Linked DNA regions of Homo sapiens: region 2 is linked to region 1. The links come from fine-mapping of genetic effects on gene expression. Tissue or cell type: whole blood. Region 1 holds a variant in brackets; the other region holds the start of a gene. All regions are shown on one strand. Distances are from middle to middle.

Region 1 (2,678 bases):
GGGACCCAGCCTTTGGGCCTCCCCAGCCAGAGCAGCCCAGCAACAGTGTGTCCTGTGGTCATAAAACTCCAGGGACCTCTATCCTCCAGGAGTCTCAGCCTTTCCCTGGGCGCAGGCCCACCTTGGCATGGCCGCCTCAGGCCTCCATGGAGGGAGCTGCTATGTCCCCACCAGATTGGCCCCGTGCGGCTGCTGGCTTCTGTAGAGGCTGCCCAGAGGGGCCAGGTGGCACAAATAAGAGAGGGGAGATGGGGGGCAGCCAGGAGAGGAGGTGTCCCTTCCTCGCCCAGACACAGCGCGCTTCTCTCTGGCCTTTCCCGAGGCCTGTGAGTGCCTCAGGAAGCAGCTGGGCCCTCTGGGAAGGCTGTGTTCAGCTTAGGAACATACCGCCTGTATCTGCTGTCCCTCCCCTGCCCCCCTGCCCCCCCCACCGCCTTCCCTTTTTCCCTGTCTTCCTTAAAGTTTCACTCCTGAATAAAACTTCACTTTGCCTTAGAATCTGTTTTTCTTTTTGTTGTTGTTTTGTTTTTCTGAGACAGAGTCTAGCTCTGTCGCCCAGGCTGGAGTGCAGTGGAGCAGTCTCGGCTCACTGCAACCTCCATCTCCCGGGTTCAAGCAATTTCTCCTGCCTCAGCCTCCCGAGCAGCTGGGATCACAGGCGCCCACCACCACCCCCTGCTAATTTTTGTATTTTTAGTAGAGACAGGGTTTCACTGTGTTGGCCAGGCTGGTCTTGAACTCCTGACCTCATGAACCACCCACCTCAGCTTCCCAAGGTGCTGAGATTACAAGCGTGAGCCACTGCGCCAGGCCAGAGTCTGTTTTTGAAGGCATCCAGGCCAGTGGAACTCTAGTGCAAGGAAAAGTTCTGGCTTGAGCTGGTGTTCCAGAGCTGTTGACACGCAGACCAAAGGAGTTAGCACAGAGGGAGAGACCTCCCCAGGATCGCGCCCTGGGCTCCTAAGGCTCACAGGTCACAGAGGAAGGACCCATGAGGGAGGAGGACCTCCAGGAGGGGCATAGTGGCTCACGCCTGTAATCCCAGCACTTTGGGAAACCAAGGTGGGCAGATCACTTGAAGTCAGGAGTTCGAGACCAGCCTGGTCAACATGGCGAAACCCCGTCTCTACTAAAAATACAAAAAAAAAAAAAAAAAAAATTAGCTGGGTGCGGTGGCACACCTGGAATCCCAGCTACTCCAGTGGCTGAGGTAGGAGAATC[A/G]CTTGAGCCCCTGAGGCAAAGCTTGCAGTGAGCCAAGATTGCGCCACTGCACTCCAGCCTGGGTAACAGAGTGCGACTGTAACTCAAAAAATAAATAAATAACTAAAGAAATAAATGAGTCGACAGCAGCATCAGACTTGCCCTTGGGATTGGCACGGAGAGGTCAGTGGCAACCTTGAGTTTAGGTGGCGGTGGGAGCTGATTCTGCCGGGTCAGAGGGAGAGAGAGGAGGGTGTTGCAGGCAGAGTTTGCTGCTAAAGGAAGCAGTAACGTAAGGCAGCTGGAGGGGAGGTGGGGTCAACAGTGTTTGGCTTTTAGGAGAAAGTGCAGCATGTCTGGGTGCTGATGTTAGTGATGAAGTAGAGAATGAATGACACAGAGGGGAGGTCTGTGGCCAACAGGTGAGAGGGGTTGTGATCGGACGCACAGTGTGATGGACTTGGAACACAGTGAGTAGCGCCTCTGGCAACACCTGCTCTGCCCACCTGTGCCCAGCAAGGCTGAAGAATGAGCTCCAGGGGGGCTGGGCCACGCAGCACCATCTGTGCACCCGGCTCGTGTAGCAGGGACCTGGGTTGCTTATTATCTGAAGTACAGGGTGGTAACAGTCTCCGCCACTACACAGGTCAAGCGCTTGGCGCTGTAAATGTCAGTGCAGACATCTCAGTGCTCTAGACAGAAACCTAGGAGTCATCTGAACTTCCAGCCTGCTAGGAACATGAGGAGAGGGACCTTGTTGCACCCAAGGCTGGGGTCTGTGGAGGGGACTCAGCGGGACACAGGGCAGCCAGGCACCACCCCCACCCGACTCCTAGTCTCTGATGCCGCTCCCTGCCCTCCATTCCAGACTAGGCGCCGCAAGTACGCTGGGGAGACCCAGGAGTAGGGAGGGCATTGGGAGCACCACCACCTGGCCACGGGCAAGGAGCGGAGACACCGAAACCAACACTCCCAGCGGCGCTGGCCACGGTGGCTCTGTCCCCTCCCTCAACAGGTGCTCCTGGGGCCAACGCCTTTCTTCCCACCAGATCCTCCCCGCCAGAGGCTAGAAGCTGTGATAGCAGCTAGAGCACAGTGGGGGGCCATGAGAAAGACCCCAGTTATCCATCTGGTCTTCTTGGGACCAGGGCCAGGGAGCCGGTCCCCTCTCCCGTGGGTTGGGGGAAGATGCTGCAGCCCGTGGACCTCCTACCCCTTTACTCCCTCACCCAAGTGCCCTTCCCAGAGGAGCGGACTCCTCCTGTCTGTCCTCCCGGCTCTAGCAAAGTCTGCGCCCAGCACCCGAGCCCCACCCTGCCCCCGGGGACCTGGCTGGTGGGTTCCTGAGGATGGTCTCCATCTCGGGACCGGGGCAGGCAGGTGAGGGTGGGGGATGGGAGGTGGGCGCGGCGGAGGGAGAGGAGGGACCCGGCCCCGCGCGCATGGACCCAGTGGGGGGCGCGGGCGCGGCCCCGCCC
Region 2 (2,678 bases), 34 kb before region 1:
ATGATCCTCCTGCCTCGGCCTCCCAAAGTGCTGGGATTACAGGCGTGAGCCACCATGCCCGGCCTGCATTATTTCTTACAACTACTTGTGAATCTACGATTAAAACAACAAAAACTAACTATATACATAGGCGTACATATGAAATAATGGTACATGAAATAGACCCGAAATGGCCAAAAAGTGCAGATGTCCTGGCAGGTGGTTTGAACCGAGGGCTTGGGGCGCTGGCCTTTGAATCCTAGCTCCTGCGCTTACCGCCCCGGTGACTGGACCAGGTTCCTCACTGCTTTGTGCCTCAATGTCCTCATCTGCGAGCTGGGGCCATGACAGAACCCGCCCGGAAGCCCTGCCTGTGCTCAGCGTCCACCCCAATTCCCGGGGGCGAGGCCTGGTGCTCCCTGGGACTGTGGCCCTGTCTGGACCAAAAGCGTGAGTTCTGGCTCCGAGCATCTGGAAGGTTCAGCCCTCCCCCTCCCCCAAGGGTCCCAACTGTGACTCACTGAGCCCCGGCCGGTGCACCTCCCGCAGGGTGTGGGTCATGCCCGCCTTGTAGCCCAGGAAGGCCGTGAGGTGCACGGGCTGGCTGGGGTCATCCCGCGGCCACGTCTTCACCTTGCCCCGGTGCCGGTGGCTCCTCTTATGGGGCAGGAAGCCCAGGTGTCCGTGCCGAGGGGCGGAAAACTTCCGGTGGGACTGGGGGGCAGGAAGGAAGGAGGTCAGACCTGGGGTGTCCCTGGTGGTAGAGCTGGATGGTCCCAGAACCCATACCTGGAGAAATGGACTACAGGCTTCAGACTGAGGCCTGTGCTCAGCACCTCCCCTGTCTGCCTACAGGAGGGGAGAGGAAGGTTCACCAAGGGGCAGCGTCTTTGGGATGGGGTCTCCATAGCCACAGGCTTCCTGCCTCTGTGGGCTCAGCCTGGGGCCCAGGAGGGTCGCACCCATACTGCAGCCAAGGGCTCCTGGGGCAGGTGGCCGCTGCCATCTGTTCATCTCCAGGGCCCTCCCAGGCCCAGGAGCCCAGCCCTCGTCCCCTTGTTTCCCCCTCCAGCCTCCCATCCCCTCACAGGCTGGGAGACTGTCCCTCTGAGGGAGCATCCAGAAGCCCAGCTGTCCCACCCCCCCAGAGTTCCAGCTCCAACCCCAGCCCACCCTCACCCTGGTCCCACCAACCATGGTGGCCGATCCCTGAAGGTCAGGAAGGGGCCTCGCCGCTAGCCGCCAGAGGTCGAGTGGCAGGGCCAGGACTCACAGCTGCCAGTTCCCAGATTAGCCCCTGGCACAGTCAGCAGGGTCTCCGGTGCCAGGAGCAGGCAGGGGCGGGGCAGTGTTGGGGGCATCAGATAGACAGCCTGAGTGGGGCACCCGGAGCCAGGGCTGGCACTCCTTTCCTCGATGGCCCTGGGGCTGGGTCATGACCCTCCCAGGACAGGACTGGCCAGGCAAGGTGGGGGCCAAGGTAGCCGGTGGGGGCCTTCTCCCAGGCAGCGGCCAAGAGGAGGGGTCTGGAGCAGTTTGCCGACTTGGAGGCAGAGGGGGTTCCTGTCCTGAGGGCTGGGAGACAGCTGGATAAACAGCGGGGAGCAGGGCTGGGGACAGGGCAGACGAGGGGGAGGGCTGACTGCACCTTGAGGATCACCAGAGCTGTGCTTCCAGATTGAGATCCCTGGCTGAGTGCAGTGGCTCATGCCTGTAATCCCAGCACTTTGGGAGGCTGAGGCAGGAGGATCACTTGAGCCCAGGATGTCAGGCCGCAGTGAACCTTGACTGCACTCCAGCCTGCGTGACTGAGCGAGACACTGTCTTAAAAACAAAAAAAAAGCCAGCCTGGCCAACATGGTGAAACCCCATCTCTACTAAAAATATAAAAATTAGCCGGGCGTGGTGGTGTGGGCCTGTTAATTCCAGCTACTTGGGAGGCTGAGGCAGGAGAATCACTTGAACCTGGGAGGCAGAGGTTGCAGGTTGCAGTGAGGCGAGATCGCGCCGCTGCACTCCAGCCTGGGCAATAGGGTAAGACTCCGTCTCAAAAAAAAAAAAAAAATCAAGATCTGACTCCTGTCATTCACAATCATTGAAATACTTTTATGAATTTATCTTTTTTATTTTTTTGAGATGGAGTCGCTCTGTTGCCCAGGCTGGAGTGCAGAGGCGTGATCTCGGCTCACTGCAAGCTCCCCCTCCCGGGTTCACACCATTCTCCTGCCTCAGCCTCCCAAGTAGCTGGGACTACAGGCGCCTGCCACCACACCCGGCTACCTTTTTGTATTTTTGGTAGAGACGAGGTTTCACTGTGTTAGCCAGGATGTTCTCGATCTCCTGACCTTGTGATCTGCCTACCTCAGCCTCCCAAAGTGCTGGGATTACAGGCATGAGCCACCGCGCCTGGCCTTATTTAAAGAGACAATGTCTCATTCCATGGCTCAGGCTGGAATGCAGCGGTGTGATCATACCTCACTTGCAGCCTCAACCTTTTGGGCTTAAGTGGTCCTTCTGCCTCAGCAGGACCTAATTTTTAAATGTGTCTTGTTGTAGAGGCGGGCGTCTCACCATGTTGCCTAGGCTGGTCTGAAACTCCTGGCCTCAAGTGATTCTCCTGCCTCAGCCTCTCAAAGTGCTGAGATTACAGGTATAAGCCACAGCACCTGGCCAAATTTAAATTTTGAATTTAAGTTTTG

Evidence for each region. PIP is the estimated chance that this variant, and not a neighbour inherited with it, causes the effect.
Region 2: it holds the start of RPL3L, and the variant in region 1 is fine-mapped to the expression of RPL3L in whole blood (INTERVAL, PIP 0.96).

The regions. Positions count from the first base shown.
Region 1 is chr16:1,987,252-1,989,929 of GRCh38, forward strand. It overlaps GFER (growth factor, augmenter of liver regeneration), which reads left to right. Exons shown (of 3, transcript NM_005262.3): 3 at 1-498. Among named protein-coding and RNA genes, the nearest start is that of SYNGR3, 1.4 kb to the right of the region's middle. RefSeq lists an enhancer at 1,677-2,256. The variant A/G (reference allele first, on the strand shown) is at 1,222.
Region 2 is chr16:1,953,456-1,956,133 of GRCh38, forward strand. RPL3L (ribosomal protein L3 like) reads right to left here and starts at 1,234. Exons shown (of 10, transcript NM_005061.3): 1 at 1,174-1,234; 2 at 501-693. The coding sequence starts at 1,176. RefSeq lists an enhancer at 1-938.